Regions from separate parts of the Homo sapiens genome. Here all the other regions are linked to region 1. The links come from fine-mapping of genetic effects on gene expression. A gene starts in region 1. Each other region holds a variant in brackets. All regions are shown on one strand. Distances are from middle to middle.

Evidence for each region.
Region 2: its variant is fine-mapped to the expression of NDUFC2 in whole blood (TOPMed, PIP above 0.99).
Region 3: its variant is fine-mapped to the expression of NDUFC2 in whole blood (TOPMed, PIP above 0.99).
Region 4: its variant is fine-mapped to the expression of NDUFC2 in neutrophils (BLUEPRINT, PIP 0.95).

What each region holds. Positions count from the first base shown.
Region 1 is chr11:78,078,450-78,081,134 of GRCh38, reverse strand. NDUFC2 (NADH:ubiquinone oxidoreductase subunit C2) reads left to right here and starts at 1,273. Exons shown (of 3, transcript NM_004549.6): 1 at 1,273-1,556. The coding sequence starts at 1,391. It overlaps NDUFC2-KCTD14 (NDUFC2-KCTD14 readthrough), which reads left to right and starts at 1,273. Exons shown (of 3, transcript NM_001203262.2): 1 at 1,273-1,556. The coding sequence starts at 1,391. RefSeq lists a silencer at 1,101-1,290 and an enhancer at 1,494-1,553.
Region 2 is chr11:77,953,082-77,955,766 of GRCh38, reverse strand. All of the region lies in intron 8 of INTS4 (integrator complex subunit 4), which reads left to right. Among named protein-coding and RNA genes, the nearest start is that of INTS4, 40 kb to the left of the region's middle. The variant G/C (reference allele first, on the strand shown) is at 1,322.
Region 3 is chr11:78,122,031-78,124,715 of GRCh38, reverse strand. ALG8 (ALG8 alpha-1,3-glucosyltransferase) reads left to right here. Exons shown (of 13, transcript NM_024079.5): 3 at 502-695. Among named protein-coding and RNA genes, the nearest start is that of ALG8, 16 kb to the left of the region's middle. The variant G/A (reference allele first, on the strand shown) is at 1,604.
Region 4 is chr11:78,034,575-78,037,259 of GRCh38, reverse strand. All of the region lies in intron 2 of NDUFC2-KCTD14 (NDUFC2-KCTD14 readthrough), which reads left to right. It also overlaps a transcript of KCTD14 not described here. Among named protein-coding and RNA genes, the nearest start is that of KCTD14, 13 kb to the right of the region's middle. RefSeq lists a silencer at 1-217. The variant G/TTTG (reference allele first, on the strand shown) is at 1,416.

The DNA.
Region 1 (2,685 bases):
AAAAGGTGGTTGTTATCTATTGTTAGCAGGGGAGGGGGTCACAAGGTACATGATGGGGAGATCATAAGACTTATTGTCCAGAAGAAGAATGTCACAAGGATGGTTGATCAGTTAAGGTAGGGCAGGGACCAGTCACAATGGTGGAATGTTTGTTAATCAGTTAAGGCAGGAAGTGGCTGTTTTACTTCTTTTGTGGGTTTTTGGCTGCCCCAGACTTCTTGGCTCCCGCAGGCCATCTGGACGCATATGTGCAAGTCACAGGGGTTACAATGGTTGAGCTTCGGCTGAGAGGCCTGACAGCAGAGACTGGAAAATTGCTTAACAGAATTATAAATTCCTTCTTTCATTACTCAAACCTTTTTTTTTTTCTTTTTGAGACGAAGTTTCGCTCTTGTTGACCAGGCTGGAATGCAATGGTGCGATCTCGGCTCACTGCAACCTCCACCTCCCAGGTTCAAGCGATTCTCCCCCCTCAGCTTCCCGAGCAGCCGATTATGCTGCCTCAGCCTTCCCAGTAGCTGGGACTACAGGCACCCGCCACCACGCCCAGCTAATTTTTTGTATTTTTCGTAGAGATGGGATTTCACCATGTTGGCCAAGCTGGTCTTGAACTCCTGAAGTGATCCGCTCACTTCAGCCTCCCAAAGTGATGGGATTACAGGCGTGAGTGACGGCGCCTGGCCTCATTACTCAAACCTTTAGGGAACACCTCCTCACTCAGCCATGTGTAACGACGTGAAGACCCAGAGGTGAAACATTTTAGGGTGCTGCCTCCGAATCTGAATTTCAACAATAGACTAAAACGATCCAGTCCTGGGCTTCTCTAAATTCTTTTGTTGCTGGCCAGACCTTAATTTTAGGCTTTGGAGGGAGTGTCTATGCGAATGAACGACTGAAAACTCAGAAAACGAAAACTAGCTTTTATGGAATTTCAATTAATTACGTTTATCAAAACTACGCATCATGCCCATTTGTGGGTATTGGATGAAAAGATAAATCTTTCCAGAAGGGGCAGGGGAGGGAGAGGCAATTCTGGTTGGGGAAGTTGGGAGAAAAGAAAATCAGTATCTCCTAGTCTTCGCCCAGTTTGGCTCGTTTGGGGTACTCCTCGACCCCGCGTTACCAGGCCCGTGAATCCCACTCCCACCAGAGAATTAGCGCGGGCGGACGAGCAAAGTGAAACTTAGTAGCCCGGAACTTCGCGTGCCGGGTTCCCGCAGCAACACGTACCGGGAAGCGTTTGGGCGCTGCACCGCGCTGCGCCGTGCCCGTGAGTCCGGCGCGCAGAGGAGGAGGAGAAAGCTGACCGCTTAGGCCGGGGTAGTGGTCGTCGTGGTTTTCCTTGTAGTTCGTGGTCTGAGACCAGGCCTCAAGTGGAAACGGCGTCACCATGATCGCACGGCGGAACCCAGAACCCTTACGGTTTCTGCCGGATGAGGCCCGGAGCCTGCCCCCGCCCAAGCTGACCGACCCGCGGCTCCTCTACATCGGCTTCTTGGGCTACTGCTCCGGCCTGATTGATAACCTAATCCGGCGGAGGCCGATCGCGACGGCTGGTGAGTGCTGCGCGGCCGGGATCGGCTGGGAGGAGAAGGGGTCGTAGGGCTGCAGACTGGCCCGGCCGTAGGCCCCCCTGAGGTGCTCTGCTTTTCCGTGCCTTTTTGCCTAGCTGGCCCCATCTCGCCTTTCCGGGGAGTCCGCGCCCCATTAGCTCTTTAGAATCAAGCAGAGCCAGAGTGTCATTTGGCACTTGAAGAAACTGAGGTGCAGTGAAGCAGGAACTGAGTCTGTGAAGGACCCGAAACTACTCTCCTCAGTTCGTGTTGTGCTGTGTGCGCAAATGAGCCATGACTCCATGCCATGCACTACTCACACTGTGGGCATTATTGATAGCATTTCGGCCTTAAAACACTTTTAGGGATGTATTATTCACAACGAGGAAACCGAGCCTAACAGATTAACAGCAGCTTGCCCAAGGTCATATGGCTATTAAGTAGCAGAGCTTGGTTTTTTTTTTTTTTGACCTCTGAATGGATATTGGACACCAGTGCTTCTCAAACTTAATGTGCATACGAATAGCATAGGTGTCTTGTTAAAATTCGGATTCTGGGCTGCGCGAGGTGGCTCACACCTGTAATCCCAGCGCCTTGGGAGGCCGTGGCGGGCGGATCGCCTGAGCTCAGGAATTCGATACCAGTATGGGCAATAGGGCGAAAACCCGTCCCTACAAAAAAATACAAAAGTTAGCCGGGCGTGGTGGTGCACGCCTGTGGTCCCAGGCTGAGGGAGGCTGAGGCAGGAGGGTCGTTTGAGCCTGGAAGGCAGAGGTTGCAGTAAGCCGAGATTGCACCATTGCACTCCAACCTGTGCAACAAAGTGAGACCCTGTCTCAAAAAAAAAAAAAAAGCGGATCCTGATTCATGAGGTCTGGGGAGGAACTTGATGTTAACAACAAGCGCTCAAACACTGCTGCTGCTGGTCTGAGGACCACGGTTTGAATAGGAGGCTCTAAACCAGTGTGCTGTACTTCCCAGTAGTATGTCACTGGCTTCCTATCAGAGACACTGACTATTCTGATAATAACCACCACAGTAGCTTTGCTAAGCTCTATGGATTTCCAGAGGGAAAAGAGGAGAGGAACTTTGGAAGAGGGGTCTTTGAAGTTAACTTTGATTATCAGGCAGG
Region 2 (2,685 bases), 130 kb after region 1:
ATTCCAGCACTTTGGGAGGCCAAGGCAGGCGGATCACGAGGTCAGGAGATTGAGACCATCCTGGCCAACATGGTGAAATCCCGTCTCTACTAAAAATACAAAAATTAGCTGGGCATGGTGGCGCACGCCTGTAATCCCAGCTACTCGGGAGGCTGAGGCAGGAGAATCGCTTGAACCTGGGAGGCAGAAGTTGCAGTGAGCCAAGATCACGCTGCTGCACTCCAGCCTGGCGACAAGGGGGAGACTCTCATCTCAAAAAAAAAAAAAAAAGGCTGGGATTATAGATGTGAGCCACTACACCCAGCCAATAATCCTTTTTTTAAATGAGCACATTTCTCATTAAGTTTTTACAGACATTTTGAGAAACTACAGATGGGGCAGTGTGACCTGAATTTAAAACCCCAGAATTTATTTTCCTTTTTCTTTTCTTGAGACAGGGTCTTCCTCTGTTGCTCAGGCAGGAGTGCAATAGTGCAGTCACGGCTCACTGCAGCCTTGACCTGCCGGGCTCAAGCAATCCTTCCACCTCAGCCTCCTGAGTAGCTGGGACTACAGGCATGTGCCACCCTGCCTAGCTAATTTGTATTTTTTGTAGACATGGGGTCTTGCTTTGTGCCCAGGCTGGTCTTGAATTCCTAGGCTCAAGTGATCCTTCTGCCTTGGCCTCCCAAATTGTTGGGATTACAGGTTTAAGCCACTACTCCCAGCCCCAGAATTTCTTAATATAGAAAGAAATAGTTCACTCTCCTGTAGAGAAATAGCCTTTTAGAACTAGAAAGAATCTTAAAACATAATTCTATTAACCCTACTAGGAATTAAGATAGCCGGAGCCTAGAGAAAAAGGAAAACAATAAAAAAAAAGTTTTTCCCATTTATTAAGCACTTGTTATGTCCTAGTTCAGGAGGCTCAAACCCCCAGGCTGTGGACCAGTCCTGGTCCATGGCTTGTTAGGAACCAGGCCACACAACAGGAGGTGAGTGGTAGATGAGCAAGTATTACTGCCTGAGCTCTGCCTGCTGTCAGATCAGCAGCTGCATTAGATTATCATAGGAGTGTGAACCCTATTGTGAACTGAGCATGTGCGGGATCTAGGTTTCATCCTCCTTGTGAGAGTCTAATTCCTGATGATCTGAGGTGGAACAGTTTCATCCTAAAATTACCCTGCTTCACCACTCTTTCTGGTTTCTTCCATGAAACTGAACCCGGATGCCAAAAAGGTGGGGGACCACTATCTTAGATAATTTGAAGGAGGCCCCTTACATATATTTTCTCATTTTCTCTTTACAGTAACCCTGCAGGATAGATGCCATTATCCAGTTG[G/C]GGCATGGTGGCTCATGCCCATAATCCTAGCACTTTAGGAGGCTGAGGTGGGCAGGTCATTTGAGCCCAGGAGTTCAAGACCAGCCTGGGCAACACAGCAAGACCCCATCTCTATTTTTCAAAAAATAAAATTTTAAAAAATTAAAAAAAAATTTTTTTTTTAAAATGCTGTTATCATTTTCTAGATGAGAAAACTGAGGCTCTGAGGAGTTAAGTAAGTTATCCAGCTTATACAGACAGAAAATTGTAGAGTGAGGTCAGATCCTGATCTTGCATCTTTTAGCTTGGTACTTTTCTGTTTTCTTTTTGAGGACTCAGCACATTTATTGAAAATTTTTAACTTTTGTGGCTCACGCCTATAATCCCAGCACTTTGGGAGGCCAAGGCGGGCGGATCACGAGGTCAAGAGATCGAGACCATCCTGGCCAACATGGTGAAACCCCGTCTCTACTAAAAATACAAAAATTAGCTGGGCATGGTGGCACACGCCTCTAGTCCTAGCTACTTGGGAAGCTGAGACAGGAGAATCGCTTGAACCCGGGAGGCAGAGGTTACCCGGGAGGCAGAGGTGCAGTGGCTCACACCTATAATCCCAGCACTTTGGGAGGCCGAAGCGGGCAAATCACTTGAGGTCAGGAGTTCGAGACCAGCCTGGCCAACATGGTGAAACCCCATCTCTACTAAAAATACAAAAACTAGCCTGGTGTGATGACACACACCTGTAGTCCCAGCTATTCTGGAGGCTGAGGTGGGAGGATCACTTGAACCTGGGAGGCAGGGGTTGCAGTGAGCCGAGATTGTGCCATTGCACTCCAGCCTGTGCAAAAGAGCGAGACCCTGTCTCAAAAAAAAAAAAAATTGTTTAACTTTTAAGGGATAAAATTGTTTTGTAATAGAGTGTTGGCCTAATACCCTTATTTTATATCTGTGTTACCTTGTATATGTCACTTGATATTAGTCTCAGTTTCCTCATCTGTTAAGTGGGGTTCTAATATCTCTCATATTTACCTGACAGTGTTGTCATGATGCTCAAATGAGATACAGTCTATGAAAATGTTTATAAACTAAAAAGTACTATACTATGTAGGGTGGGTGGGGGCATAGTATATAAATATATGTGTGTGTAAGTATCTATAAAAATTTGTATACGTGTCACAGCAGGAAAATCTGTGATTCTTTTTGGACACTTCCCCTTTGAGTGCCCCCAGCCCTGCCACTCTTGGTGAGATTGTTGGCTGAATGCTTTGTTTCTGACTGTACTGGACACTGATCCGGTGATAGCTTTAGTCCTGTGACCAGTATTTATGGGAGTATTTGCTGAAACCTGTGTGAAGCGCTTTCATGAGATATAGTAATGGATGATT
Region 3 (2,685 bases), 44 kb before region 1:
TCTAAGACAGAATTTGAACCTAAGTTAGTGAATTATTTGTTATTTAGATGAGTAGAACCATGTCATAACCAAGTTTATCATCTCCAGGTTTCAAATTAATTTCCTTTAAGTGTAGTTGACTCTATTTAAGGAAATTGAAGACCATGTTAAATAATTTACAAGACAGGTTTTAGTGTTCTGTTCAGTCTTACATAGGAATTGTTCTATTAATTTAGGGCATATTTTAAGTGCAACAGCATTTCACTGTGATTTTTGTTCGTTTGTTTTTAATTAAAAATAGAGACAGGGTTTTACCATGTTGCCCAGACTGGTCTTGAACTCCTGGGCTCAAGCGATCTGCCTGCCTTGTCCTCCCAAAGTGCTGGGGTTACAGGTGTGAGCTACCACGCCCAGCCTTATTGTGCTGTTTTAAAGACCAGAGAATGAAAAATTTTAAATCGTTGCACCATCTTTGTTTATTCAGTTATTTAGGATATGTCTGATCTTCTATTTTTATCACAGGCAACTTCAGAGTGGACGTTGGATTACCCCCCTTTCTTTGCATGGTTTGAGTATATCCTGTCACATGTTGCCAAATATTTTGATCAAGAAATGCTGAATGTCCATAATTTGAATTACTCCAGCTCAAGGACCTTACTTTTCCAGAGATTTTCCGTCATCTTTATGGATGTACTCTTTGTGTATGCTGTCCGTGAGTAAGTCTGGAGCATGTCATTTTGTATGGAAGGTATTGAAAAAATAGTACAGTGTTAAGTAGTATTAACTTACTCCCAATTTAGGAGGAACAAAGTTTATATGATAGCAAATGCTAAAACAATGAAAAATTGTATTGTGCTTTAAACTACATGTTTAAAGCACTCTAGCTGAATCTTGTGGAAGAAATGGGGATAAGGTGGAGTTACAAGGCAGAGGTAGAACAAGAGATTATGAATGTTGTGAAAAGAAGTAGTCCCAAGTATAGTTCTAGGGCCATTTCTCCCACCCAGAATAGCTCCATATGTTTTTCTTTGCTTCCTTGCAGCAGGCCGCCAGAGGCTTCCATCACCTACCCTATCTTAGGGTATGCACACAGTACATGCACAGTAGCGCACACGTATGGATTGTGCTAACCACCAAAGTCTGCTTTTACGGAGCTTTCATTCTAGTAAACTCAAGAAATTTCACTGAGTGCTTTTAGTTGTTTCCATATACTTTCCTTCATGAAGACTCTTTGTTATTTTAAGTTATGCTTATATTTTAAATTTTTATGTTTTACAACTTTTACTTATAAGTTAATTTTAAGTATTGAATACACATATATAGAATGTCTTGCACAGTGACTTCCAAGTACTAAGTTTCAGTTAATGTCAGTTTCCATTCTTTCCTAATTCTTTTTTTTCTTTTTTTTTTTTTTTTTTTTTCTTTTTTTTCCCTGAGATGGAATCTTGCTCTGTCGCCCAGGCTAGAGTATTGTGGCGCGATCTCGGCTCACTGCAACTGCCTCTCGGGTTCAAGCAGTTCTCCTGCCTCAGCCTCCCAAGTAGCTTGGATTACAGGTGCACACCACCATGGCAGGCTAATTTTTGTATTTTTAGTAGAGACAGGGTTTCACCATGTTGGCCAG[G/A]CTGGTCTTGAACTCCTGACCTCGTGATCCACCCGCCTCGGCCTCCCAAAGTGCTGGGATTACAGGCATGAGCCGCTGCACCGACCTCATTCTTTCCTAACTCTTAAGCTCGCTGGTGTGATTGTGACAGAACAGTGACTGGTGTTCATTCAGTGACCCTTGTCATAAATGGATCGTTTCTGTTTGTGAGGCCCTCTACACTGAACCCTTGCCCCACTCAGTAAAGAGTCCCTTGGGAATGTCTTTAACCCTTGCGCATTCTCATTGAATAATCCTGTTTGAAACCCTTCCTTTCAATCTGTTTATGACCTGGCAAGAGTTGAAAGGGAAGGTAATTTTTAATATACTCTTTTTAACTCAAAATGTTTGAATTCAAGCTTCCAGGGGAAGAGTATACAAGCACAAAGGGAGAGGAAATAGAATTCATTTCCATCTGCAAAGTAGAGGGAATAGTTAAAAAGATTGTTGAAAGGCCAGGCATAGTGTCTCATGCCTTTAATCCCAGCACTTTGGGAGGCCAAGGCTAGTGTATTGCTTGAGCTCAGGAGTTTGAGACCAGCCTGGATAACATGGTGAAACCCTGCCTCTACTAAAAATACAAAAATTAGCCAGCTGTGGTTGCCGGGGACTGTTGTCCCAGCTACTTGGGAGCCTGAGGCAGAGGATCTCTTGAACCTGGGTGGTCAAGGCTGCAGTGAGCTGTGATTACGCCACTGCACTCCATCCTAGGCGACAGACTGAGACCCTGTCTCAAAAAAAAAAAAAAAAAATTGAAATCTCTGTGTCAGTTCCCAGAACCAAGCATGATATACAGATTATTAACTTATTTAATTTTCTCAGTGACCCTGTAAGTTTACTGCCTCTATTCATGAGGGAACTGAGGCTCCATAGGGCGAAAGGAGGATACCTTTGCTAGTCCCCCTTTAATTGCATCTATTATTTGTTTTAGATTTATTGTTAAAATTTGCCACTCTTCAAATGTAGCACATTTTCAATATCGTCTTTTTATAGAATAATACATCCCCATTGTAAAAACTTTGGAAAAGCACACACACATGCAAAGTAAAAATGAGTCATACTCC
Region 4 (2,685 bases), 44 kb after region 1:
AGGGCGTGTGCCCACGAGGTCTGAGAGTGGCTGGCCCCGGGGGAGTGGTTGCAGCAGGCACTATTTGCTCCCCAGTTTCTGATTGTCCAGGAATGATTCACATGAGTTTTACTGATTGGCCCCTCTGCCTCTCATCCTGTGGTGGACACCTGAGTAGGGGACAGAGGGCACCATGGAATGAGCACAGCTGTGGCTCAGAGGGACCTGGTTTTGAACCCTGGCTCATGGTTCCGTGACTTTGGGAAAGTCATATTCCTTCTTTGGCCTTGGTTTCCTCATTAGCAAAATGGGACAACAGCATGTACTTCCTAAGACAAACTGTGTAAAATGCCTGGCATTGGGCAGGCAATTAATACATGTCTGTTCCTTTCCTTTGCCATGTTTTCACTTAGCAGCGATTTATCCGGGGCCTAGCATGTAGCAGCCACATGTGCTCAGCACCAGGATCACAGTGGTGAACAAAATCACAGATGTGGAGACTGGCTGCCCTCATGGAGCTTGGGGCAGACATTCAGTAAACAAAGGCATGTCCTGAAGGAAAAGTAATGTCTTACTAAAAAGAATCATTGATGACAGCCTTCAAATAGAGTGGTCACGGAAGGCCTCTTGGGAAAGGTAACATTTAAGCTGAGATCTAAAGTATGAGAATGAGCCAGGCATTTGGGAAAGCAGTGCCGGGAGGAGGCTAAAGAACACAGGCTTTACAGCCAGATGTATATGGGTTTTGAATCCTGTTTCCTCTATTTATTTAGCTGTGGGACTTTAGGTGAGTGTCTTCACCTCTCTGGGCCTTGGTTTTATCTTTTGTGAAATGTGGCTAAAAATACCCACTTTATAGAATTGTGAGGATGAAACTCAATCGTGCATACAAAGTACCCTGCATGGAGTCTGGCACATGGTGAGCACCTGTGAAAATCAGCTCCCCTCTTGTCCCAGTTTGAGACTGTCAAGTGTACAGCATAGACACAATGCATGCACATGTGTGCACACACATTCACACTCACACTTGAAACACATATAGATATGCAGGCAGAACATAGATAGCTCTCTCAAGCTGGGTATTTCAGGAGACTTTCATAAAGGGACTCTTTTGTTTTTTTTTTGAGACAGTCTCATTCTGTCATGCAGGCTGGAGTGCAGTGGTGCAATCTCTGCTCAATGCAACCTCCTCCTCCTGGGTTCAAGTGATTCTCCTGCCTCAGCCTCCCAAGTAGCTGGGATTACAGGCACCCATCACCACACCCAGCTAATTTTTGTATTTTAGTAGAGACGGGGTTTCACCATGTTGGCCAGGCTGGTCTCAAACTCCTGACCTCAAGTGATCCGCCTCCCTTGACCTCCCAAAGTGCTGGAATTACAGGCGTGAGCCACTGTGCCCGGCCATGAAGGGACTGTTTTTTTTTTTTTTTTTTTTT[G/TTTG]AGATGGAGTCTCGCTCTGTTGCCCAGGCTAGAGTGTGGTGGCACAATCTCAGCTCACTGCAACCTCTGCCTCCTGCGTTCAAATGATTCTCCTGCCTCAGCCTACCAAGTAGTTGGGATTACAGGTGCGCAACACAATGGCCAGCTAATTTTTTGTATTTTTAGTAGAGAAAGGGTTTCACTGTGATGGCTGAGCTGGTTTCGAACTCCTGACCTCAAGTGATCCACCCGCCTCGGCCTCCCAAAGTGCTAGGATTACAGGCGTGAGCCACCGCGCCTGGCCCATAAAGCGACTCTTTACAAAGAGTCCCTTTGGCAGGGTTTGGGGAGAGTAACAAGAGATAGTGCAGACCCTGAGGGTTAGTAACAGGGTGAGGAAGGGGGCAGTTAGCAGAACTGAGATGATAGCTGTGTGGAGACAGCTATCACGGGCTGGGACCTTCAGAAGAGGGATGCAGCCAATGTATAGGAACTCGACAGGGAGAGGGCCCGGGAAGGAATATTCTGGCTTCTGCCTCCTCTTGCCTCTGATCTCCCGCTAAGCTCCCATTGGCCAAACTCAGTTGGAAGCCAGGGTGCATGGAAGCCTGTGGATGCACCCCAAAAGGATCAGCCTCCCAGAGTAGAAAAGGCTGGAGTGGATCTGGAGAGACAGGTAGAAGAGTTACAGCATGCTCTCCACTTCCACTGGCCTCTTTAGAATGCCAGAAGTGACAGATATACCCATTGTAAAGTGGCGTAAGTCAAAAAGAAAAACCCTCGGTCACCTAACCGGAAACTCCAGGGGTAGGGCCTTAGGCAGAGCTTCATCAGTGCTCAAATGATAGCCGGCAATCAGGTTCTCATCAACTCTTAGTTCTATGTTCCTTTGTAGGTTAACTTCAATCTCAGGCTACATATGGTGGCAAGATGGTGGCGGTAGAGAGTAAAGAAGAGGGTGGCCCCCGAAGCAAAGCCGTTGTTCTTTACAAAGGAGAGTGAATAAAAGCAGGGTGGAAATGTTACACATGTTCACTACAGTGTACCTCGGAGAGCTCATGGCCCATAAACTCAGGCAAGAGGGATTGAGATCACTGAGGCCGCGGTGAGCAGGGTCCCCTGCTTGGCTATAGTCTGTTTGGGGATGACTCAGACTGTCTTGAAAACACGTGGGCTGTCCGTTCCCACCTCTGCACTGAAGGGACCTGAAAGATTACTTAGCCCAGCAAAAAGACGAGATTTGTACAAGACCATGTAGTTAATGTCAAGGCCAGGACTTGAACCCAGGTCG